7 linked regions of the Homo sapiens genome follow. The protein of the gene in region 6 purifies or fractionates together with the protein of the main gene of each other region. This does not show direct contact. Each region holds a gene or a part of one and is shown on either strand. Other genes may lie near its edges.

What was found.
Region 1: the proteins of NUP93 (region 6) and RSF1 fractionate together in Homo sapiens (co-fractionation; one large-scale study listed by BioGRID). This does not show direct contact.
Region 2: the proteins of NUP93 (region 6) and AIRE purify together in Homo sapiens (affinity purification with western blotting; one study listed by BioGRID and IntAct). This does not show direct contact.
Region 3: the proteins of NUP93 (region 6) and ZFP91 fractionate together in Homo sapiens (co-fractionation; one large-scale study listed by BioGRID). This does not show direct contact.
Region 4: the proteins of NUP93 (region 6) and NUP88 fractionate together in Homo sapiens (co-fractionation; one large-scale study listed by BioGRID). This does not show direct contact.
Region 5: the proteins of NUP93 (region 6) and TLN2 fractionate together in Homo sapiens (co-fractionation; one large-scale study listed by BioGRID). This does not show direct contact.
Region 7: the proteins of NUP93 (region 6) and DHX38 fractionate together in Homo sapiens (co-fractionation; one large-scale study listed by BioGRID). This does not show direct contact.

What each region holds. Positions count from the first base shown.
Region 1 is NC_000011.10:77,810,723-77,814,222, reverse strand, and holds part of RSF1 (remodeling and spacing factor 1), read left to right. Parts: intron 1-3,500. UniProt on the Homo sapiens protein: Regulatory subunit of the ATP-dependent RSF-1 and RSF-5 ISWI chromatin-remodeling complexes, which form ordered nucleosome arrays on chromatin and facilitate access to DNA during DNA-templated processes such as DNA replication, transcription, and repair.
Region 2 is NC_000021.9:44,284,733-44,288,675, forward strand, and holds the start of AIRE (autoimmune regulator), read left to right. Parts: upstream 1-1,143; 5' UTR 1,144-1,274; coding exon 1,275-1,406; intron 1,407-1,824; coding exon 1,825-1,999; intron 2,000-2,245; coding exon 2,246-2,401; intron 2,402-2,784; coding exon 2,785-2,859; intron 2,860-3,612; coding exon 3,613-3,726; intron 3,727-3,943. UniProt on the Homo sapiens protein: Transcription factor playing an essential role to promote self-tolerance in the thymus by regulating the expression of a wide array of self-antigens that have the commonality of being tissue-restricted in their expression pattern in the periphery, called tissue restricted antigens (TRA).
Region 3 is NC_000011.10:58,603,063-58,606,562, forward strand, and holds part of ZFP91 (E3 ubiquitin-protein ligase ZFP91), read left to right. Parts: intron 1-3,500. UniProt on the Homo sapiens protein: Atypical E3 ubiquitin-protein ligase that mediates 'Lys-63'-linked ubiquitination of MAP3K14/NIK, leading to stabilize and activate MAP3K14/NIK. It thereby acts as an activator of the non-canonical NF-kappa-B2/NFKB2 pathway.
Region 4 is NC_000017.11:5,388,663-5,392,162, forward strand, and holds part of NUP88 (nuclear pore complex protein Nup88), read right to left. Parts: intron 3,001-3,500; coding exon 2,899-3,000; intron 299-2,898; coding exon 140-298; intron 1-139. UniProt on the Homo sapiens protein: Component of nuclear pore complex.
Region 5 is NC_000015.10:62,841,550-62,845,131, forward strand, and holds the end of TLN2 (talin-2), read left to right. Parts: 3' UTR 1-3,082; downstream 3,083-3,582. UniProt on the Homo sapiens protein: As a major component of focal adhesion plaques that links integrin to the actin cytoskeleton, may play an important role in cell adhesion. Recruits PIP5K1C to focal adhesion plaques and strongly activates its kinase activity.
Region 6 is NC_000016.10:56,838,129-56,841,628, reverse strand, and holds part of NUP93 (nuclear pore complex protein Nup93), read right to left. Parts: intron 2,678-3,500; coding exon 2,560-2,677; intron 2,109-2,559; coding exon 2,025-2,108; intron 1-2,024. UniProt on the Homo sapiens protein: Plays a role in the nuclear pore complex (NPC) assembly and/or maintenance. May anchor nucleoporins, but not NUP153 and TPR, to the NPC. During renal development, regulates podocyte migration and proliferation through SMAD4 signaling.
Region 7 is NC_000016.10:72,096,847-72,100,346, forward strand, and holds part of DHX38 (pre-mRNA-splicing factor ATP-dependent RNA helicase PRP16), read left to right. Parts: coding exon 1-163; intron 164-830; coding exon 831-935; intron 936-1,798; coding exon 1,799-1,946; intron 1,947-2,080; coding exon 2,081-2,199; intron 2,200-2,357; coding exon 2,358-2,434; intron 2,435-2,885; coding exon 2,886-3,041; intron 3,042-3,500. UniProt on the Homo sapiens protein: Probable ATP-binding RNA helicase. Involved in pre-mRNA splicing as component of the spliceosome.

The sequences.
Region 1 (3,500 bases), on a different chromosome or scaffold from region 6:
TGTGGCCAAAACTTTTTTTTTTTTTGAGACAGTCTCGCTCTGTGGCCCAGGCTGGAGTGCAGTGGCGCGATCCTGGTTCACTACAACCTCTGCCTCCTGGGTTCAAGTGATTCTCCTGCCTCACGCTCCCAAGTAACTGGGATTACAGGCATGCACCACCATGCCTGGCTCATTTTTATGTGTTTAGTAGGGACAGGTTTTGCCATGTTGGTCAGGCTGGTCTTGAACTCCTGGCTTCAGGTGATCCAGCCACCTCCACCTCTCAAAGTGCTGGGATTGCAGGCATGAGCCACTGTGCCCAGCCACTTCTTATTTTTATCCTGAGTTTAGGGATGTGTTAAATTGTATTAATTCTCCATTATCTCTGTGTGTGTGTGTGTGTGTGTGTGTGTGTGTGTGTGTCCTTTTACAAATTATAAATGGCCGCTCTTTGAGGAAGTCGCGGTGGTAGGTGCTGCGGCTCTGTGATCCGCAGGCTCCTGCTCCTTACTCACTACTGTTCGCTCTCGCCGAGGAACAAGTCGGTCAGGAAGCCGTGCAGCAGCTATGGCTTTGAAGGTTACCGGAAAAACACGCGTGGAGCTGGAGGTGGCAGTTCACCGAAATTGAATCACTCTAACGAGCCGCAACATAAAATCCCTGGAAAAGGTGTGTGCTGACTTCATCAGAGGAGCAGAGGCAAAGAATCTCCAAGTGAAAGGACCAGTTCGAATACCTACCAAGACTTTGAGAATCACTACAGAAAAAGTCCTTGTGGTGAAGGTTCTAAGACGTGGGATCCTTTCCAGATGAGAATCCACAAGCGACTCATTGACTTGCACAGTCCTTCTGAGATTGTTAAGCAGATTGCTTCCATCAGTTTGAGCCGGGAGTTGAGGTGAAAGTCACCATTGCAGATGCTTAAGTCAACTATTTTAATAAATTGATTACCAGTTGTTAAAAAAAAATTATAAATGGCAGACTTGATCCCATTCATCATTAGACTACTTTCATGTTTTGCTCAGAATTAAGTAAGTTTTAATATTCATTTAAAAATACTTATCAAATAAATTTGGTTTCTCTCAAAGTAAGTTGTGTAAGATATTCTGATTTTAGCAAATTATTTCATAATTTGTGCCTTTCTGTTAATAAACAGAAGAAGCAGGGATGAGGTGGTGGGGAATTTGCAGTGTTTATTTAATCTTACCAGTTTAGAGGCTGGACAAAGAGCAAGAATTAAAAGTTATGCTTAGAATGTTTGTCCAAAATTAAGGTGATCTTTTCAGTGTAAGAACATGAGTTGTGAGGGCACAGCAAGCAGAAACTACACCAGACTGATTTTTTTTTTTTTTTTTTTTTGAGATGGAGCTCTGTCACCCAGGCTAGAGTGTAGTAGTGCGATCCCAGCTCACTGCAACCTCTGCCTCCTGGGTTCAAGTGATTCTCCTGCTTCAGCCTCCTGAGTAGCTGGGACTACAGGTGCCCGCCACCACGCCCAGCTAATTTTTTTGCATTCTTAGTAGAGATGGGGTTTCGCCATGTTGGCCAGGCTGGTCTCAAAAACTCCTGACCTCAAGTGATCTGCCTGCCCCGGCCTCCCAAAGTGCTGGGATTACAGGCATGAGCCACCACATCCAGCCCAAACTGATTTTAAGAAAGAAGAGCATGAGGGCAAAACTTGACAGCAGACAGACCAGGCTTCAGCCTCCTGTAGTTGAACAAGGATTGCTTGAAGAGCAACATGAAGTATATAATGTATATATGGCTCATGTAAGCAAGAGTTCCTCCAGAAAGCTTTCGTAGTGGAGGTTGAGTCTGTATTTAATTTTAGACTCTAAGCTTTATTCTCCAGTATTTGTACATGTTTATCTTAATCATTTTCTGAATAGTAGGATTATACAGTTTTTTCCCTTTGGTTTTTCTTATATTTTTTCACATTTCATTTTCTATGTTAATTGTGCATTTCTTTGATAATCACCAAAAAACTATTTAAAACTAGATTTCTAAAGAGGCTTTTTAAAAGGAAAATTGAATTTCTGCTTGTATTTATGTACTCTTATTTTTATAGACAGGGTCTCACTCTGTCACCCAGGCTGGAGTGCAGTGGCTTGTTCTCTGCTGACTGCAACCTCTACCTCCCAGACTCAGGCGATCCTCCCATTTCAGCCTCTCAAGTTGCTGGGGACTACAGGCATGTGCCACCACACCCAGCTAAAAATTTTTTGTATTTTTAGTAGAGACAGAGTTTCATTATGTTGCCCAGGCTGGTCTCAAACTCCTGGGCTCAAGCAATCCACCTGACTCAGCCTCCCCAAGTGCTGGGATTACAGGCGTGAGCCACCAAGCTCAGCCTATTTATTTATTCTTAATCTTGAATTACCTCTTAAATGAATGTTACTATCATCTACCCAAGTCACTCAGATCAGAAACCAAGGAGGCATCCTAGACCTTAGCCTCTGACACTTTCTTTGATACCAAGTTATATTGAGTCTGTTTATCCCCTTTTATATTCAACCTTGCTTTTCTGTTCTCATTGCTAGTTTTAATCACGCCAAACTGCTTTTACATCTCTGAAGATGTGAAAGGTTGTTTTACATTTATGCTTTTTCTTCGTCCTCCTGCCTCTGAGTCGAATATACCATCCCCATCTTCCTTCCCTTGCCTGCTCACTGTACCCGTCATTAGTCTGCTCTTTAAGCATCAAATGCTCTGTGGAAAATTTCCTTCTTTCTGTCTCTCAAGTTAAATTAACCACTTCAATCTCCTTACCCTGCACGTACACTTTGTAGATTTTATGCCACAGTACTCATAACACTTTTTGCAGTTACTGCCTAGCCTACAAGATGGTAAACTCTTTGAGGACAGGGTTTCTTACTTTATTTTATCACCAGCAATTGGTGGGTAATAGCAAATATGTAGTAAATGTTTGTGGAATTAATAGTTTTCCTCAACTTACTATAGGACCATGTTCTGCTCTAAAACTTTGAAGTTAAAGCCTAGTCTGTGATAGCTTAGTACAGTGGTGGGCAATCTACAGCCTGTCCTCTCTATCTTTGTAAATAAGGTTTTACTGGTATACAGCCATGTTCATTTGTTTACATTCTGTTGTCTGTAGCTGCTTTCACACAACTGTGGCAGAGTTGAGTGATGGTCACAGAGAACATATAACTTCAAAACCTAAAGTATTGGGCTGGGTATGGTGGCTCATACTGCAATCCAAGCACTTTCGGAGGATTGTCTGAGTCCCAGAGGTTGAGGCTGATCATGCCACTGCACTCCAGCCTGGGTGAAACAGCAAGACCCTGTCTCAGAAAAAAACAAAACCCAAAACCTGAAGAACTTATTATCTGTCTAGCCCTTTACAGAAAAAAATTTACTGATCTTTATTCCAGTGTATGAAGATGGAAGTCTTATCAGATGATGATCTCTGTTTTTGAAAATACATTTAGAACCAGTATAATACAAATTTCCAGCCTCGCCAACATGGTGAAACCTGGTCTCTATTAAAAATACAAATTAGT
Region 2 (3,943 bases), on a different chromosome or scaffold from region 6:
CTGGCCAGGTCATCTCGTTCTCTGGCTCAGTGGGAACACTCGTGCCCAGAGACCTCTCGTGGTTCTCTGCAGCCTGCACACAGGGCCTGCTTCCCTGGCTTGACCGCACAGACAAGGGGACTGTTACCAAGGCCTCCCACTGAGGCCACCCCCCCTCCAGGCCATGCCTGCGGGGCCACCACAGCCTCAGCATCATTGCAGGCCCCAGGCCTCTGCACCTGGTCTTGTTTTACTGGGGGCACTGTCCCCACTCACGTCCACCTGGGACCCTCGGCTCCTGTCCACTGCAGCTCCCCTCCCGGACACCTTCCCAGATGCCCCCGGAAGCTCCTGTCCAGGCCACAGCATCCCTCAGCCTCTGTCACTGGTCCTAGGAAGACCCTTTGGGAGCTCTCACTCAGGGCCACACTCAGGACCCCCGTTGTGGGGCTGGCCGCCTTCCTTCTAAAGCACCTGGAGGAAGGAAGGAGGGGGTCAATGCGAGCCTCAATCCCCAGGCGAGTGTGCCCCTTTTAAAGATGAGGGAACCGAGGCTCAGAGAAGGAAAGGACTTGCCTGGCGTCACACAGCTAGCCTAAGATGGTGAGGTCAGGAGCTCCCTGGCAACACCCAGGCTGCCGTACCGTCTCCTGCATCAGACTGAGCCTCCATCGGGCTCCTCCCACAGCCCCAGGCGGGCCCCTGAGTAGGGGCTCTCAGCTTGTGTGGAGGTCCCCCAGGAACACCACCCCGATCCAGCCTCCATGGAGGCTCTTGCCGGCCACTGGGAGGGGCCGGTGCACCCTGGGCAGCCCCTGCCAGGGCCCTGAGACCCGAGCCTCCCCGCCGAGGGCACCTGTCTCGGCTTTGCCCCATTCGAGCAGGGCCCTCGCCGAGGCAGGACAGGGCCACATTCGGAAGTGAGAGTTCTCTGAGTCCCGCACAGAGCGAGTCTCTGTCCCCAGCCCCCAAGGCAGCTGCCCTGGTGGGTGAGTCAGGCCAGGCCCGGAGACTTCCCGAGAGCGAGGGAGGGACAGCAGCGCCTCCATCACAGGGAAGTGTCCCTGCGGGAGGCCCTGGCCCTGATTGGGCGCCGGGGCGGAGCGGCCTTTGCTCTTTGCGTGGTCGCGGGGGTATAACAGCGGCGCGCGTGGCTCGCAGACCGGGGAGACGGGCGGGCGCACAGCCGGCGCGGAGGCCCCACAGCCCCGCCGGGACCCGAGGCCAAGCGAGGGGCTGCCAGTGTCCCGGGACCCACCGCGTCCGCCCCAGCCCCGGGTCCCCGCGCCCACCCCATGGCGACGGACGCGGCGCTACGCCGGCTTCTGAGGCTGCACCGCACGGAGATCGCGGTGGCCGTGGACAGCGCCTTCCCACTGCTGCACGCGCTGGCTGACCACGACGTGGTCCCCGAGGACAAGTTTCAGGTGGGCTCCCCGCCCGCCCCCCGCTGCCCCCAGGCCCTGTGAGCCAGGGATAGTCCCCGGGGAAGTTCCAGGAGGACCCCGCCCCTCCAGATCCCCAAGCCCCTCCAGCCTTCCCCAACTCCCTCCCCACAAGGAGCCAGGGGCGTCCCTGATGACAAGTTAGAAGTTGGTCCCCTTCCCCCAGCCGTCCCCACACCTCACCCCCAAGCCAAGGGAATGGCCTCCAGGTTCCCCCAGCCCCACCCTCAACACCCCTACACCACCACCTGACTCCACCACAAGCCGAGGAGATGGGCGTGGAGCTGTCCAGGTCGCCAGCGCCTCTGCCTGGGAGCTCCACCCTCTAGTCATGATGGAGATGGGCAGGCCGCAGGGTGTGGGGGACCATGGCAGGGACCCTCATGCCACCCCACTGCAGGAGACGCTTCATCTGAAGGAAAAGGAGGGCTGCCCCCAGGCCTTCCACGCCCTCCTGTCCTGGCTGCTGACCCAGGACTCCACAGCCATCCTGGACTTCTGGAGGGTGCTGTTCAAGGACTACAACCTGGAGCGCTATGGCCGGCTGCAGCCCATCCTGGACAGCTTCCCCAAAGGTGGGTCCTGGTGGACTCAGCCATGCTGGGGGCCTGGGGCAGCTGCTGTCACCTGCTCAGCCCAGCTGGACTGGAACCGGAGTGGTGTTTGAGGAGCCCGTGGGTGATGTTCCAGGACCGTCTTGGATCCTAAGAGGCAAAGGGGCCAGGCCTCACCTGTCTGGCCAAGGTGTCCAGTTCTGGGGCCCACCCTACCCCTGGAGAAAACCCTGAGGTTGGGACCCTGCTCCTGCCCCTGAGCTGCAGATGTGGACCTCAGCCAGCCCCGGAAGGGGAGGAAGCCCCCGGCCGTCCCCAAGGCTTTGGTACCGCCACCCAGACTCCCCACCAAGAGGAAGGCCTCAGAAGAGGCTCGAGCTGCCGCGCCAGCAGCCCTGACTCCAAGGGGCACCGCCAGCCCAGGTACCCTCCCTGCAGGGGAAGCCAGCCAGGGTCTCCAGTCTTCCCGGGCTTCCCCGGGAGCCCACGCCCCCTCCCCACCCGGGCTCCCACCCACTGGGTGTGGGGCCAGCCTGCCTGGGGCTGTGGGGGTCTCCTCTGGGTACTAGACCCACACACTGGACCAGCCTCTCAGCTCCCTCCTGCCTGAAGGCTGAGCTCCCCGGAGCTGGTGAAGTAGGCGGGCGGGTCTCATTTCCCTTTTACTGATGAGAAACCAGAGCCCGGCAAAGGGACTACCCAGCACTGGACCGCCCCCTCCACGCCCTCCCACCGCGGGCCCCTGCCCACCGGCACTCACCCCCACTGAGAGGGGAGGCCAGGCTGCCCCCAGCTCCCCCATTCAGGCTCTCAACTGAAGGCCAAGCCCCCCAAGAAGCCGGAGAGCAGCGCAGAGCAGCAGCGCCTTCCACTCGGGAACGGTGAGCGGGGCCCAGTGGGAGCGCCTCCCTTCTCCCTGGCCAGGGGCAAGGGGTCAGGGGTCAGAGCAGGGCCTGCCCTCTGAGACCCTGTCCTAGGGGCTGGGGACGTGCTGGCCTGGTGTGTCATTCCAAGGGCCTAAGCTGCACCACCAGACCCAGGAAGGGGACACCTTGGGTCTAAGCATGATCTTGCCAGTCGCCCCTGCCCCCACTGCACCCTGGTTCTGGGACCCCCTTCTCAGGCACCTTCTCTGCCCGTCCACTCCCTATCCTTCAGGACCAGCCTAGACATAGCTTCCTCCAGAAAATCATCCCTGGCCCCCAGCTGCATGCAGGCTGAACCCTTCCTGTCCCCTTCTCCTTCCTTCCCAGGGCACTGGACTCCAGAGACCCCCTATCTCCCTGAGGGCAGAGCCTAGGAACTCTGTGTCCCTCCCGGCACAATACAGGGCCCATGTCATGGGGGGGTGGGTCTGGTCATTGGTCATGCCTTCCTATCCATTGTGCCAGCTCTGCTGACACTGCCACCCCCCAGCACACGCACACTTGGGTGCACACACGAACACACACATTCTCATGTCTCTGCACTTACCTGTGGGCTGTCTGCACATGGCAGGGCTGGGTCCCCTCCTTGGCCTGCCCTGGCTGGAAGGAAAGGGCTCTGCAGCCCAGTGCTGCCTGCTTCTGGCATAGAGTATGTGCTTGGGAACAGTCTTCCCCACGGGTGACCCCAATGGGTGTTCCCTTTCCCAGGGATTCAGACCATGTCAGCTTCAGTCCAGAGAGCTGTGGCCATGTCCTCCGGGGACGTCCCGGGAGCCCGAGGGGCCGTGGAGGGGATCCTCATCCAGCAGGTGTTTGAGTCAGGTAGACGCTGTGGCGGGGAGATGGGGCTGATGGGGAGACCCAGGCTCCAAGATGGAAGGAGGACCACGCCCCTTTGCATCCTGGTGGTCCCACAGCAGACCGGACTGTTGCTCAGGTAGCCAGAGTTTCTGCCTGTGGTTCTGCTGACTTTGGAGGAGGAGGGTGAGCACTGAAGTCTCCCTGTCGGGGGACCTTCTGCAAGGCCAGCGGTCCAGGC
Region 3 (3,500 bases), on a different chromosome or scaffold from region 6:
GGCCTTAGAAGGAAATGATGAACATGTTATTGGACAGTGGAGAAAAGGTGATCCTTGTTATAAAGTTGCAGAGAACTTGACTGAATTGTGTTCTATCATTGGGTAAGCAATGAACTTGGATATTTATCTGAGTAGATTTACAAACAACGTGTAGAAGGTATAGCCTTGTTTCTTCTTGCTTATATACTAATGTGTGAGAGGAAAGATATAAATTGAGGAATGAATTGTTTAGCAAAAAGGAGCCAGCACTTGATAATTTGAAAATTTTTTAGTCTGTCCAAATAGTGTATTGTGGTACAGGACCAAGGCTGTGACTGGACAGCTATTCTCTAAAGAGACTTGGTATATAACTTGTGGATCGAATCAGCCATCTCAGCACTTCCCAGAATAGACATGCAATTTTTCAGGAAAGATCTGTGGAGGACTCTCATTTGGTGGCTTCGACCCCCTGAATTTCATGAAAGACTGACAAAGTTTTTGAGAATGTTGTGACAGCAGAAACACTGCCAGGCTGGCCTGAATGGGACAGAGACAGAATGGAATTAAAGAAGAATGATGCTGAGGGTAGAGCTGCAAATGCTGGGTCCTGGGTGTATTAGACTTCCTGGGGCCACGATGGCAGGGCTATTTCCCCAGTGGACTCAGAGTACAAACCATTATCCACAAAAGCTTATTCTTAGGGCTTAAAGTCTAATGCTTTTCGCTAGGTTTTGGACTAACTTGGGACCCCTGACCCTTTTTCCCCCCTTCTATTTTCTTCCTTTTGATATGGAGATGTGTAATCTATAAGTGTCCCACCATTGTTTTTTGGAATCAGCTCCACAGATGGAGAAGAATTTTGCTCTAGAGTGGACCATACCCCCAGTCTCATTCATAACTGATCTAGATGATGAGATTTGATCCCTTTTGAGTTGATGATTTTTAGGTATTGTTTGGATTTAGACTTGATACTGGAATGGGTTAAGACTCTGGGAGGTTGGGATTAGGTGAATGTATTTTGCACATTGGAAGGACATAAATTTTAGGGAACCAGAAGGTACAGACTACTACGGGTTGAATTTTATCCCTCCAAAAATGTGTTGAGTCCTAGCCCTTAATACCTGTAAATATGAACTTATTTGGAAATAGGATCTTTGCAGATGTAATCAAGTTATAATGGAGTTATTCTGTATTACAATGGGCCCTAATCCACTATGACTGATGTCCTTATAAGAATAAGGACATCACACATGGGACAGGAGGAAACACCGTGTGATGATGGAGATAGAATTGAAGTTAGCAGCTATAAGCCAAGTTGTTGACCACCACCAAAAGCTAGGAAGAGGCAAGGAATGATTCTTCTCAGAGTCTGAGAGGGAGTGTGGTCTGTTATTGTGTTGATTTTGGACTTTTATCCTCCAGAAGTATGGGAGAATAGATTTCTGTTGTTTTAAGACATCCCAGTTTGTTGTGATTGGTAGAGCAGCCCTGGTAGACTAATACATTATTTCAGCTCTCTCTTGCTTACTATTCGCATGTAATATCTTAATCCATTCTTTTACTTTGAACCTGTTTGTGTCTTTGGATCTAAAGCAAACTTGTCCACTATGGCCTGCAGTCTGAATGCGGCTCAGAACGGCTTTGAATGTGTCCCAACACAAAATCGTAAACTTTCTTAACACATTATGAGTTCTTTTTTAAATTTTTTTATCTTATCAGCTATCATTAGTGTATTTTATGTGTGGCCCAAGACATGTCATCTCCTTCCAGTGTGGCCCAGGGAAGCCAAAAGATTGGACAACCAGGTCTAACGTGAGTTTCTTGTAGACAGATTGTAGATTGGTTGTATTTTTTGTTAATCCATTCTGCTAATATGTACCTTTTAATTCCACACTATATGTATGTGTAAACTACCGATAAGAATGGCCTGCCATTTTGCTTTGTGTTTTCTACCTGTCTTAATATCTTTTATTTTGATCTTTATTTTCTTTGTATTTCCTTGTGTTGCAGATATATAGCAGTGTACCATCTTCTCTTTTCATTTTCTGTATATTTTTATTTTCTTAGGGGTTACCTGGGGATTGCATTTAGTACTTTAAACTTTATCTAGTTTAATGCCAGTTTAGCTTCAGTAGTAAACATATCTCTGCTCTGTACTATTCTGTGCCTCACCATTTATGTTATTGTTGCAAAGTGTATGTTTTGATGTCAAATGCCCATTAACATAAATTTACAGTTGCTATTTTGTACATTTGTCTTTCAAATCATGTAGGGAGAAAAAGGAGTTAGAAATCAAAAGTACAATATCATATTTTTGCCTCTGTAAAATATGCCAGTGTTTTAATTTATGGCTTTAAGTGCTCTCTAGTGTCCTTTAATTTCATCTTAGAGGATTCCTGATAGCATTTTTTATAGGGCAGATCTACTAGTGATAATCTGTTTTTGATTTTCTGGTAATGTCTTAATTTCATCTTCGTTTTTAAAGAATAGTTTCGGCAGCTATAGAATTCTTGCTTGACGATTTTTTTTTTTCCTTTCATCACTTTGTTATCACACTGCCTTCTGACTTCCATGGTTTCTGATGAGCGGCTGTTAATCTTGTTGAGTATTCCTTGTTGCTTATGAGTCACTTCTTGCTGTTTTTATGGTTCTTTGTATTTGTCTTTCTACCGATTGATAATAATGTGTCTAGGTGGGGATCTCTTTCATTTATCCTACTAGGAGTTAGGTAAAGTTCTTGTTTGTACAGACTATATTCCCCAATAGTTTTTCAAATATTCTTTCTGTTCATTTTCTCCTCTCCTTCTGCAAATCTTATTATGCATCTGTTGGCATGCTTAATGGTTGTCTAAACGATCTCTTAGGCTTTATTTTCCTTTATTCTTTTTTTCTTTATATTCTTCATACTGGATCATCTCTGTTGGCCTAGCTTAAAGTTCACTGATTCTTGTTTTTCAAGTCTGCGGTGAATTTTTAATTTCAGTTATTATACTTCTCAGCTCTAGAATTTTTTTCTCTTAGTTCCTTTTTTGTGGGGGGGGTGTGGTTTCACTCTTGTCGCCTATGCTGGAGTGCAATGGTGTTATCTCGGCTCACTGCACCCTCCACCTCCTGGGTTCAAGTGATTCTCCTACCTCAGCCTCCCAAGTAGCTGAGAATACAGGGATGCGCTGCTACAAGCAGCCCAGCTAATTTTTGTATTTTTAGTAGAGACGGGGTTTTGCCATGTTGGCCAGGCTGGTCTCGAACTCCTGACCTCAGGTGATCCGCCCACCTTGGCCCTCCAGAGTGCTGGGATTACAGGTGTGAGCCACTGTACCCGGCCTCTCTTGGTTCCTTTTTATAGTTATCTTTTTATTGGTATTCTGTATTTGTCGAGACATATTTCTTCTGATTTCCTTTAGTACTTTGTCAGTGATTTTCTTTAGCTCTGATTGTCTTTAGTTCTTTAAACATTGTTTTTTACAACTTTTATTTTAGATTCGGGGGTACATGTGCAGGTTTGTTACTGGGGCATATTG
Region 4 (3,500 bases), on a different chromosome or scaffold from region 6:
CTGATCAAATATATCCAGTTTCTTCCAAATTTATCACAGTAAAAAGTATATGAAACAGATGAGGACAGAAAGGATGCACAGTAATTCTGAAGACAGAAGAGAACCCATTCATAAAACCGCTATGCCCAAGGTTGCATACTTCAAAAATGCTGGATTGGCAACACTACGTTGCAAAATGCTTCTAATATGCTTTTCAAAGGAATCTGGGGTTTCAGCCAGAACACGGAGGGGAGACTCTGCCACTTCAACATCTTCTCGAGTACAAAGCAGGGGAGGAGACGCTGGATGGACTGTACTTCTGCAAAATAAGTAAGTAAATTGAATTCTACCATGGAGTGATTTACTGTATTACAGGAAAGCAGAAACCACATTAATCCAGAACTTTCAGAATATAAAATAAAGTGTAACTTTTGTAAAAGTGCAAGAATGCATGTTTTCCACCTTGAAAAGGTCACTTTGGGAAGCTACACCCTTATTATTCCAATGCCCCTGATTTGTGAAAGCATTTCTGACTGCCATTTCCAGTTCTTTTCTAAAAGATCAAGGCAGCACAAACACCTAGCATGGATTCTTGGCAAAGGACTTGAAAGCCAGTTTATAAGCCGGAGCCACAAACATAAATTACTTATTTGTTAGGTTTAGAGTTGATCAAAACCAATATTAAGCCAAGAAACTGCTGTATATACCATATTGGTTCTATATAATTTCATTTCTAAAAACTATTCAGTCAAGTGCAAATACTCAAACTTCAAAAAGAGCTTAAAAGATCTCACAGACTTCGGCAGCATGGCAAGTGACTTACTCTGAAGGCAACAATTCTAACGTGAATGTTTGGTTGGGCGTGGTGGCTCACGCCTGTAATCCCAGCACTTTGGGAGGCCGAGGCAGGTGGATCACTTGAGGTCAGGCGTTCAAGACAAGCCTGGCCAACGTGGTAAAACTGTCTCTACTAAAAATATAAAAATCAGCTGGGTGTGGTGGCACACATCTGTAATCCCAGCTACTTGGGTGGCTGAGGCATGAGAATCGCCTGAACCCAGGAGGCGGAGGTTGCAGTGAGCTGAGATCACACCACTGCACTCCAGCCTGGGTGACAGAGCAAGACTCTGTCTCAAAAAAAAAAAAAAAAAAAAGTGAAAGTTCATGAAATAGCATAACTTTATAGACAACTTGTATTTCAGGGAGTTGGCAGAAATATGATCTGAAAGTATCCAGATAATTGGCCTGGCACGGTGGCTCATGCCTGTAATCCCAGCACTTTGGGAGGCCGAGGTGGGTGGATCACCTGAGGTCAGGAGTTCAGGACCAGCCTGGCCAACATGGCAAAACCTCATCTCTACTAAAAATATAAAAATTAGCTGGGCATGTGGTGTGCGCCTGTAATCCCAGCTACTAGGGAGGCTGAGGCAGGAGAATCACTTGAACCCGGGAGGCAGAGGTTGCAGTGAGCTGAGATCGTGCCACTGCCCTCCAGCTTGGGCAACACAGCAAACTCCGTCTCAAAAAAAAAAAAAAAAAATATCCAGACAATTAATGTTTATTTTTCCCCTTTGGGATTCATATTTATTCTGAAGTAAGCTAGTGTGACTAGGTTTTATTTTACTAAATGTACTGTGGGTGTTTAAAAAGTATGCTGAGGTAACTTACAGGTAATTTTTTCTCCAGTGATTTTATTATTTTTGTTTGGTCTTGCTAGCTTTTAGTGCCTTCAGTGTAAATAACACAAAATTTATATTTATTTTTACATCCAGATAGTACAACTTAATCAAGCTTCAAAGACTATGGAAGATCCTCTAAGGACAGTAAACTACTGCCAGTATTAGGAATTTATGTCAGCATCCAGAGGTGCAAGCTTTGAACGGACAAGGGGTGGGGGTGTTGTCTAGTGTTTGAAGCTCCAGTGACTTTTGTTTTTGGTACTCATATTCCTACATTTATGTAACTCAGAATGATCTTCCAGGGCTGTTGGAAAAGGAACATAGTGATTACAGCTTAATTATCTGAGTTCCTTAAAGGAGCAAAGACTAAGAGTTCAGCTTTTTTGTTTTTTTTTTTAAAAGACACAGGGTCTTGCTCTGTTACCCAGGCTGTAGTGCAGTGGCATGATCATGGTTCACTGCAGCCTAAAACTCCTGGGCTTAAGCAATCCTCTCACCTGAGCAGCTAGGACTACAGATGTGTACCACCATGCCTGGCTAATTTTTTTGTTTTTTGTAGAGATGGGGGTCTCACTGTTTTGCCCAGGCTGATCTCGAACTCTGGGCCTCCCAAAGCATTGGGATTACAGGCATGAACCACCACTGCACCCAGCCTGAGTTCAGCTTTATTCCAGTTTACATAGTCTACAGTGTCCCTCAGGCTGGCAGAGATGGAGAAATTAAAGAGTATGAGTATGGACTTCTGAGTCAATGAGACCTGCATCTGTATCCCAGCTCTATTTGTTACCTGTGACTTCAGCATTTACTAACCTCTCGATCCCCGTTTCCACTTTTATAAAATGGAAATGACAGTGCCTTCCTTACAGGGCTGCCCTGATGATTCCAGGAGGCAGTGCGGGTACGTGGCTTACTTCTGAGCTTGGCGTATGGTCACAGCTTGATAATTATTACTCATATCGATAATGGAATTTGGTATTCAATTTTAGTATTTTTTCTCCACACTCTGAAGAAAAGCTCCTGACTCTCAGCTAGGTGCAGGGGATGCCAGAAACTATACCTACAATGAAACCTTATAGAGATGATGGCAGGAACAGAAATATCCATCCTTCCAACCCTCAAGTCAGAAGCCAAAGTATAAACCACACATGTATAGCTTCAAGTTGGTTACTGAGTGCATTTTCCCAACTTAGATATTGCAGAATTAACAAGAGCTGTGTGGAGAATATAAAATGGGACGTACAATAACGGCCATATGAGGCATTCATAGGTACTGGTGATGCAGATCATCGTGGGTCCCAGAATGTCAGGTACAATCCAAAATCCTCGAATTGGAGCTGGCTGCCTGGAAAAACACAGTCATAGTTAAATTACAAAGCAGCAAATGCAATGGAACCAAGAGCAAAGACATGACAGGTCCGCGGCCTTCTCAGGCCTGGGCTGAAGTTGCTTGGGACATCCTATCAGTACCATAACCTCAAAAGTGGTGGCTTGGAAACCTTTAATGCAGCTCCACACTAAAGTCTAGAGCCCATGTGACTAAGTCACTCAGGAATCCCTAACTGTAGCGTGCTGCTGACTGTAATCTCAAAAGTTACACGTTACACTGAAGATCTCTCCAACTTGCACATAAGCCCCAGCTATCTTTGTTTGCCTAGCCCAGTGCTAACAAATTAAGTGCTTAGAAACTGTTGAATGAACAGAACTACCGAGTCTCTCTCAATGAGGCCCAATGTCAATGTCACAGGAAATCACTTGGCACGCACAGCGTGTATCTCTCTCAGTCTTCCTTCCCACTTCAGTGAAGACACTGGAAACTGAGACCTCAGATGGGAACTGTCATTC
Region 5 (3,582 bases), on a different chromosome or scaffold from region 6:
CTGCTTACAAACCTGTCCCCTGTCCTCCAACCCAAAACGCCTTTTTTTCTGTCTTAATATCCAGAAAATCTAAATGCATCCTAAAATCAATGTGAACCTTTAACAAGATAGTTTTACTTATTATCACATAAGACATAAGATGTTTTCATTTTCTGGATGTCACACTTCCAGAATTTCATATTTTTCCCCTCTTTTCTTTCCCCTTTTCAGAGCCCTCCCATAGGAAGGGAAGGGCTTGAATTTACCCTTAATCTGCACCTTTAGCCAAGGCAGTGCATGGAAGATGAATGGCTCGTGGGACAGAATCTAATGCCAGGGAGCAGGAGTGTTTGAAAGAATTCATAGTGGGGAAGGTAAAAGTTAATGGAAGTACATGATTTTCAAAACTGGTAACAGTTAAAGGCACTCACCCTCCGCCTCTCTCTCTCTCTCTCTCTCTGGTGTGCTATCATGTCTTGGACTCCATCCACACTATAGTTTCAAAGTTCCACTGACGGGGGAAAGTTGGTGCTTTGGTCCTCCGAAGATGTCACCTTTCGACCTTGCCCGATCTTGTTTCACCAGACTCTAGCCCATGTCATGGTTTTAAAATACATAAACTTCTGACAGCTTCCCATATTTATAAGTTACTTATAAGTGCTGCACGTATTAGAATTTTTTTTTTTCAGACCAGTAAAGTTAGAGAAAAGACGCTGTAAAGGAAAAGCAAGTGAGAGTATGTGTAGGACACTGACAGTGTGTGGGCACCAGTTCTGAAGAGGAGGGGAGCTGCTGGAGCCCTAGCCTGTTGGGGAAAAGCTGGCACACTCTTGGCTCGCCCTCTTTGAGTGGAGCTGATCCAACACCTCATGCCTGCCTTGGCCGGACACTGAGAGGAGGGGCACACGTGCTTCCAGAGACACTCAGGAGTCAGACCCCAATGCTCAGAGTCACAATGTGTTCATGGCCTCCTGTAACAGGACTCTGGGGATCCCCTCTGTGGCCCAGCCCACCCCACCCTCTGCTCTTCTATGCTGTGCCCAGGGCAGCTGCCCTCTTCTGCCTGTGCCCCATCCCATCCTGAAAACCCAGGACCAAGGCAGGGGCAGGCAGCCAGTTCTTCCACCTTGCCTCAGAGTCATTTAAAACCTTTACTGCATTTGATACCAGAAAAGCCTCCAGAGACAAACCAAATGCAAAGGCCTTTCCTTTATAACTCTAAAGAACAGGCATCGAAAGTTTATTTTTGTAGGAGCTATATAAATACTCACCTTTCTGGAGTCGTCCAGTGCTGGGAGCTTTGGGGAGTTTGGTTCTCAGTTATCACCTGGTATGGTCCCAGTTTCTCATCTGTCCTTTCCTCATCCACCCTGCACATGTGTATGTGAACGGCTTCGTGGCCGGTGTGGTGGTTTCTCATTTCATAAGATAGTTGAAGGGCCATGCCTTGTCTGGATGTTATTTAATAGGCACTACTGCGGTGTCCTCAGATGGTACTGAGGGGGCCTTCTGGTCCTTCAAAGGAAAATAACACAGGCATGAGTTCATTTGGGAGTGTGAACTTTCAGAACACCTAATAAGAGAGTGGTGTCAGAGTAAAAACGGCCCCAGGTCTGGAGCATAGAAGTGTATCTCTGTGAAGAGAGAGCCGGTGTGTTGACATGTGGTTCTTCTCACACCCCTCTACTCCTCGAGGGCTTTGAATCCTTGGGCTGATTTTTGTGCCAGAAATTGCTGTTCCCGATGGCCAAAAGGGGAACCTGAACTGGATTTCAGAACTGCCCAGTGATTTGAAAATTTAGATTTTACTTGGGCCTTTCAGGAGTCTTTAGATAGGGATGCTGAGGTCATATTTAGTTCAATGAACAGCCCTTGTTTAAGTTTTGCCAGTGTCCAGCCAGCTGTGGCCCTGGCCATCTGTGCAGGCAGGTTCCTCAATTCCTGGTTGGCCCTGCAGTCGGTCAACACAGTCCCTCCAGGTCGGCTGCAGAGGCAGCTGCCCAGCCTGCAGTCTATGCACGGGCCTTAAGAAATGAGCTGCCTGTAGCCTCACGGCATATGCTTTTATCAGGGAAAACCCTTCGAGCTTCTTCTGATTCTCACCTGCTTGCTTTCTGGCTGTCTTAGTCAGTGTGTTTACAGGCAACTAAAGCCTGTTCCTAATTTATCAAAAAATTATAACCAAAATTCACCATAGCCTAAGAGAGTAAACCCCACCTCCAAAGTGATGCCAAGGCCAAAACCTCATCAAGGAACCAGACACAGGTCAAAAGTGGTGAGCAAGCCATGGTCTCTGCTCCTGGGGAACTCACACGCTGACCCCCGAGGAGCCTTGGTTTCCTCCCTGGCAGATAGTCCCCAGAATCTTCTCTCCCAGCTTTGAGGTTCTGGGCTCTGGAAAGGCCTCTGGGATGCTGGCCTTAAGATCTCAGCACAGACTATCAGCATGTTCCATTCTCAGATTCCTGGAGGAAAGGTACCCTCTGTTGACCAAGGGGCTGGCTGCTTCTGAGACTTACCAACCCAAGAAATTTGGAGACATTCCCCTCAGGCTAAAAGGCAGCGGTCCCCAGAGTTCAGAAAGCAAAAGATCTTGACAACTGTGCCAGTAGTGGCTCTGGTCCTATCTCTCCACAGTGCTGGCCTCTGCTGGGGAAGGCATCTTTCCCAAAGGTATCCCCAAGTACCATGTTGAAAATGTCCTCAGTCTGTTGCTCCATCTTTCTGAGCCTCTGCTTGGTATGTCATGTTTATGGTCACTACGGATGAGTGTGTGCAGAGTTTGGGTTGATTCTTTTAAATGCTACAAACAAGAGCTATTTCTTTTCAATAAAAAAGGTTTGGATTCGGCCTCTTCCTCTGAGCCCACCTCCCAGCCCTCCAGGGAGCATCAGTGTACCTGAGTCACTTTGTCTGCATCTCTTCATCCCACAAAACACGAGGCTGGGTCTCATTCAGCGGCCTCTCACCAACCTTCAAGATCCAGAAGAAAACAGGAACGTTCAGCTCTGCCCTGTGTCGTATCTAATCACATACATTAATTTATCTAACCACATAAGTTATTTTTTTTTATTTGCCAGAAATAAACCTTTAAAGGAACAAACCTGTGTGGAGGACTCATGGGAATGGGAGGAAGATGGAAAAGAAGGGGGAAGAGACTGTCTTTATCATGAGAGTAAAATTCCACCTTGAGGACTAGCTCCATAGTTACCAGAGGTATGTCAGGAGAGAGCACGTGTGTGTGAGTGAGTGACAGACGCAGAGCCACAGGGTGCCACAGAATTTCATGTAGCTTTGCTGACAAGAGTTAACTTGGAGAAACTCCAGGAGCAGGCGTCCTGGACAAGTAGCTAGGGGGCTTTTTGGCTTTACATACCGCCTCTGTCAGAAGACCGCACAGCTGAATACAGAAGTGCATATGGGATCATCTCCAATCTTGACCCAGGTCCTGGCACAGGAAGGTTAGGTTCACTTCTGACAGCTGAGGCCACAACTGCAACCCCCGGAGACTGCCAGGCCCTCCTTCCTGTTTGGACTGGGAATTGCTGGGGGCCAGAAGTCCTTGTTTGTGGCGGGGCAGCCAGACTTAGAAAAGTGTGAGGC
Region 6 (3,500 bases):
TGCTCCAGGCAGGCCTGGTTGCACCACTCCTCACCATTGCCAGGTGGAGAGCCACACAGTCACCCAAAAGGAGCTGATGGCACTGAAACATCAAGTGTGAGAAAAAAACCCAAGCAATGCTGCTCAGGTCAGGTGGTTACTGTTCCTGCTCCTTTATGCTGTTTTTCCCTTAGTCAGGGGCAGTGAGCCAAAAGCATGCTGACATCTGGTTAGCATTAGGCTTAGACTGGCCAGCAGAGTGGCTGCCATTAAATAATTTGAACTTGAATGTCAGGAGGTACAGGTGCACACGCTACTTCTCCACAGTCCCTACCACTCCTCACTCTCTCAAACTCACCGGGCTGTTTCCACTAGATCTGCATGACCCTACCAGAGTCCTTGGGAGTGTCTATAAGGCCAGGCCCTCGTGTACCACTTTAATCCCTGATGCAATGAAGGATGCATTCAAGGAAAGGCCAGAAATAACAAAGGAGCAAGTGGCTAAGGGTAGAAGCCACAGCAGGTATAAAGGGAAGGTCAGCAAGGGGCAAGACCTTCTGAACTGTGTGTACCACAGCAGTCAACATCCCTCTTCATGTGCAGAACTGGCCTTACTTCTTTCTCTAAAATAGAAACTTTTTTTTTTTTTTTTTGAGACAAAGTCTCCCTCTATCGCCCAGGCTGGAGTGAAGTGGCGCAATCTCGGCTCACTGCAACCTTTGCTTCCCGGGTTCAAGCGATTCTCGTGCCTCAGCCTCTGGAATAGCTGGGACTACAGGTATGCGTCACCACGCCCGGCTAATTTTTGTATTTTTTAGTAGAGATGGGATTTTACCATGTTGGCCAGGCTGGTCTCGAACTCCTGACCTCAGGTGATCAGTCCGCCTCAGCCTCCCAAAATGTTGGGATTATAGGTGTGAGCCACCGCACCTGGCTGGAGACATTTTATAAAAGGCATCTGCTCAATGAGGAAGAATTGTAAACTGAAAGACCACTAGTGACATCCCAGAGCCAGGCAGCTGGTTCTAGAGTCTATAGTGTCGACAGCTGAGTTGAGTGTTTATAGTTCTAGAGAAGAATTTACCTGGGCCACACACTGGAATGACTGGGGGAGGTCTGGGCTGCAGCAATCAGGGAAAACAGAATCTCTGGGGTGTAGGCATGAGGGTTTTTAGAAACTTTTCTAGAGATGCCAGTATGCAGCCCAGCTGAGCACCCTAGGCTAGATGCTGGCAATATGCTAGAAACCCAACAGACAGTGGCTCTGGGGCTTATGGGGTGATAGCTTACTCCGCGGTCACTGCACTTGCGTCTTTAGACAAAATGGATTGGCTGGGCACGGTGGCTCACGCCTGTAATCCCAGCATTTTGGGAGGCCGAGGCGGGCAGATCACGAGGTCAGAAGATCGAGACCATCCTGGCTAACACGGTGAAACCCCATCTCTACTAAATATACAAAAAATTAGCTGGGCGTGTTGGCGGGCACCTGTAGTCCCAGCTACTCGTGAGGCTGAGGCAGGAGAATGGTGTGAACCCGGGAGGTAGAGCTTGCAGTGAGCCAAGATCACACCACTGCACTCCAGCCTGGGTGACAGAGTGAGACTCCTCCGTTTCAAAAACAAAAAAATCCCAAAACAGATAAGGGAGGGCAAAGGTGGCAGTGAATCATGATGTGTTTCACGTACCCAATGGAACTACTTAAAGATGATCAGAGTTAAGCACTAAAATACCCTCTAGCACAAGCGGATAATAGAAGAATTAAACCAGACTTCACAGATCAACCAGAAACCTGTTTCTCCCAAGAACATGTCAATCACTGAAGTGACTGTATTTTCTCAATTAGGAATTCAGACAATAATCTGATGGGGATGTATGCACTCACAGAAAAGCCAGGCCAAGGTATCTGAAAGGGAACCACTCTGGAAAACTCAGTCTGGATAGTTACTGTAACTAGAATTCTTAAAGCTGTTAGGTACAGGAAAAGAAAAAGCTTTTGGTGGAAGTGGGGAAAAAGGAATTCCACAACTCAGGAAGAAGGAACTTACTTCATCACTGAAATTTCTGAAGGCAGCCACTCTCTCTTCCACACTTTCCTGATTCAGGGGCACCAGCTTCAAGCGCTCAATGATCTGTTTAAAACAACCACCGGCCCCATGTAACACAACCATCACAGTCATTTCATCTCTCTACATGTAAAGTCAGCACCTCACATACTCCAAAGGGCTTCTTCATAGAAAACGCCATTCCTCCTTGTACACACAAAGGCTTTGATTCTAACTAGCTAACTTAATTCTTATCATCATTTCCTGACACAATTTTTAAAATTCTGAGATTGCAAATTACTTTGAGAAACTTCTCTGTTTTCAGATTAAAGGGGAAAGGAATAGGCAAAAAAAAAAAAAAAAAAAAAAAAAAAGCCACACAGGAAACTCCTTTTAAGTCCCAGGATTGTACTTGTCTTTCTTTATACAACAAACATACTGGCAACAGCTCCTTTGTTTTAAGTAAATTCCATGAAGTGTTTTGAATTTTCGAGGGTGTACATTAACCTGCACTTCAAACACCTTTCCTGAAACTTACATCAAAAGCTCTATCAATATGACCACTATGATACTCGTCAAAAAAGGTGATCAAGTCCAAAAGAAGATAGAACGTGGAGTCCACAAATTTATTTGCGCTTATTCCTTGAGCCCTATACCTGAAAGACAAAAACGGGGTGGGGGTAGTAAGAGTGTATCAGGAATTTCTGTGTAATCCGTAACAGTGGAATAGCATTTAAAAAAACAGTGGGGTGTGGTCGCTCATGCCTGTAATCTCAGCTACATGGGAGGCTGGGGCGGAAGGATTGCTTGAGGCCAGGAGTCAGTGACCAGCCTGGACACACAGCGAGACCCCATCTCCACAAAATATTAAAATATTAACTGAGTGTGGTGGTACATGCCTGTAGTCCTAGTTACTCAGGAGGCTGAGGTGGGAGGATTGCTTGAGCCCAGGAGTTCAAGGTTACAGTGAGCTATGACTGCACTACTGCACTCCACTCCAGCCTGGGTGATACAGGGAGACCCTGTCTTAACATACAAAAAAAATGTATAAAAAGCATCAAAACCTTCTGAGCTCTCTGGGTGAAGTTAATTAAAGAGTGTAAAATGGTGTTTATTTTGAAACAGCCAAGCACTGATAGTGGATTTGGTATGAATCCACCTACAGGTACTCCACCACATGAAGCATGGTTCTCCAGCCTTGATCATCATCTCAGCATCCAATCTTCATGAAAGGTGGGAGGTCGTGATGGGCAAAAAGCCGAGCAGCCCTCACTGGGGATTGTTTGCTAGGTGGAGATATCTCATTTACCAAAGAATGTTCTTTTTTGTTACCCCGGGAAGGCACCCCAAACCCAGTTTTCTCTGGGTCATTTTACTAGGAATATCTACAGAGAGCGCAAAAAGTAATGTTGTTAGCTTCAGCCTGGGACTTAAACTAGTTAGAAGTCTGATAATTCAGTTAACTCACTGGGGATCCAG
Region 7 (3,500 bases), about 15 Mb from region 6:
ACTCCATCCCATCCGGGTGGTGTGAGCGAAGAGTTTTGGGAACGCAGTCGGCAGAGAGAGCGGGAGCGGCGGGAACATGGTGTCTATGCCTCGTCCAAAGAAGAAAAGGATTGGAAGAAGGAGAAATCGCGGGATCGAGACTATGACCGCAAGAGGGACAGAGGTAAACTGTCCAGCACAGTTCCTATTGTCCATTAGCATTCGAATAAATGTGTCAGCCTTTTTCTTGTTGCAGGAGTTTTTGCAACACCCATTTGTTAGGGAGTCCTATTTGCATGATGTCCGCCTGAGTGGTTTTGACCCTGCTGGGATTGGGAATACTAGTTTAAGAAAAGAGCTGTTGCCTGTAACATAGCTGCTCTCCTTGAGTGTGTGGTCTTCGTTTTATTATGAAAATTGATGATAAAGGAGATAATGGGTAAATATGTATAAGAGACCAGCATTTCTAATAGTATTGGTGATAGAGAAAGGACAGTGCTATGGAACAAAGCTAGACAAAAAAATCCAATGCTGTCCTTGCTCAGTATTAAGTTTTATAGCTGATAGAATTGTAACTATTAAAAAAAATGATTCACTGTAAACTCGCACTAGTATTTTTTGAATTCTTGCTGGAAAATAACTGTTACTGTGGGTTTGAAATTTTCTAGGCAGTAACTATTTTTCCCCCTTGGGAGAATGGGGATAGGTGAGTTTCAGGAGTCCACGGATCACATTCGAGCAGTGCAGGTTGCACCTGTGAGTGAGTGGGCAGCCTGTCCTTTCTCTAGGGTGAAGATGTGTATACCTTAGGATGGGATGCATGTTTTTAAGCTTCGTGTGACTCTTCATAGATGAGCGGGATAGAAGTAGGCACAGCAGCAGATCAGAGCGAGATGGAGGGTCAGAGCGTAGCAGCAGAAGAAATGAACCCGAGAGCCCACGACATCGACCTAAAGGTAGACTCACTGTTTTGGTGGCTTGTGAGGATTCAAGTGTATAAAAGGCAGAGTGAGTGACTCTCGTCTTCAGTGAGATTGCTGAGGCATTGAGTCAGAATTCCCGATTCTACCATGAACATCTTGGGATAGTTGGTTCTGAGTCAGGTGGGCACAGCTCTGCACTTGGGGTGGATATGGTTCCTGTAAGGTGAGAGGCTGGTTTGCTGAATGGCCAGTTTTCCAAATGGTAGGAAAGAATAGGGAGCTGGAGGTAGAAGAAGTGTTTATTAAAAAGAACTACTTATATCCAAGAAGGGTGTGTTTGTAGAGATAAAGTAAATATCCCTTAAAATGTTGTCATAAACACAGAATGCAAACTGGACCATTGGCTAGGTGCAGTGGCTCATACCTGTAATCCCAGTACTTTGGGAGGCTGAGGCAGGCAGATTACTTGAGGTCAGGAGTTCGAGACCAGCCTGGCCAACATGGTGAAACCCCATCCCTACTAAAAATACAAAAATTAGCCTGGGGTGGTGGTGGGTACCTATAATCCCAGCTATTCGGTAGGCTGAGGCAGGAGAATCACTTGTACCCGGGAGGCAGAGGTTGCAGTGAGCCAAGATCACACCACTGTACTCCAGCCTGGGCGACAGAGCAAGACTTTGTCTCAAAAAAAGAAAAAAAGGAAAAATACATCCTGGACCATTAAAAATTGAGATATCTTTAAAAACTGTCAAAACCGATCTTAACCGTTATAGATACATGCAAGGTTTAGAAATAGTAAAAGGAGTAAATTTGGGGAATTGACTTTTGGCAACTGGTTCTAGACCATGTCATGGTTAAGTGAGATGTTTCCTGTGGATGTGTCTTTTGTGGCCCAGATGCAGCCACCCCTTCAAGGTCTACCTGGGAGGAAGAGGACAGTGGCTATGGCTCCTCAAGGCGCTCACAGTGGGAATCGCCCTCCCCGACGCCTTCCTATCGGGATTCTGAGCGGAGCCATCGGCTGTCCACTCGAGATCGAGACAGGTGATGTTCTGGGCAGAGCAGCCCAGTTTCGCTGGGTGGGCGGTAAGGAGCCTCGGCAGGGAGAGCAGATGGTGGCCAGGAGGACGTGGCTTAGCTCAGTGACAGTTTTGTGATGCTGGTGCTGCTGTTCCCAGGTCTGTGAGGGGCAAGTACTCGGATGACACGCCTCTGCCAACTCCCTCCTACAAATATAACGAGTGGGCCGATGACAGAAGACACTTGGGGTCCACCCCGCGTCTGTCCAGGGGCCGAGGTGAGGCCTGTGGGGCAGCAGGCAGAAGAGCAGGCTTGCTTGCCCTAGCGAGGATGAGCAGGGGCTGCCCTTCTGGAGCTGCATGGCCCTGCAGATCTGTCTGGGGCCGCTGGGGACAGGCCAGGGCATGGACTGACCTGCTTCCTGTGCTCCTCCAGGAAGACGTGAGGAGGGCGAAGAAGGAATTTCATTTGACACGGAGGAGGAGCGGCAGCAGTGGGAAGATGACCAGAGGGTAAAGTTTTATACCTCTGAGGGGCTGATCGGGGCTGGTGGCCGTCTGTAGATGGGTGACCCTCTAGCAGGACTGGGCTTTGATGAGGGTACACCTGAGCCCTGTTCAGACCCAATGCCCTGGAGTCTCTTTGCAGAGGCATAGACGGCACGGTGAACCCTGTCACTCACTGCAGTAGGCTGACCTAACTGTTCTGTTATGTGTTGGTGCCACCATGTGGTAAATCTAAGAAGTGCTATCGTGATGGGCTGCCCTCCAGTCCTGTGTAGTTGCCCACTGTGGTTCTCCTCCAGATGGCATGTGTCTGCAGGGAGGCCTCTCCTGCACCCCTCACAAGGGTAGCTCCACTGCAGTAGTGACTTCCTACCAAGCGTCCCTTCTTCTGTTGGCCATGTCTCGTGCATAAACTTGATCTGTCCCTCACTCCCTTGCTTTGCCTCCTGCCCTGCAGCAAGCCGATCGGGATTGGTACATGATGGACGAGGGCTATGACGAGTTCCACAACCCGCTGGCCTACTCCTCCGAGGACTACGTGAGGAGGCGGGAGCAGCACCTGCATAAACAGAAGCAGAAGCGCATTTCAGCTCAGCGGAGACAGATCAATGAGGTGAGGCTGCCTGCAGAAGTTGGAGCAGATTCAGAGCTGGAGGTAGAGCACGTGGGGAAGCAGCAGGTTATCCCCAAGTGAGGGCAGCACAGCTTGTCCCCTGATTGCCGAGAAGCCCAGATCCTCTGGAGGTGGAAGAGGAGTGGGTGATGAGCCTTTTAGTAGCTTAAGGAAAGCCCCGGCTCGTACTTCTCTCTTTTGCAGTACTTCCTTGAGGGGAAGTACTGTTGATGGGAACAGGTGCATTGGGACCTGCCTCTGTGGTCTGTGTTCTTTGTGTCTCTGATGTGGGCTAGGGACACTTACCATTTGTGTGTCCCTCTAGAGGTTCTGATTTAGATGAAAGGTGCTGCTGCTTGGAACAAACTCCTGCAGGTGATTTGGGATCAGCACCTCTTCTGTCTTTGGAGCTGTGGGTAGAGGCCTGTGACATCTTTGCAGCTACCAGTGGCCTTCTGT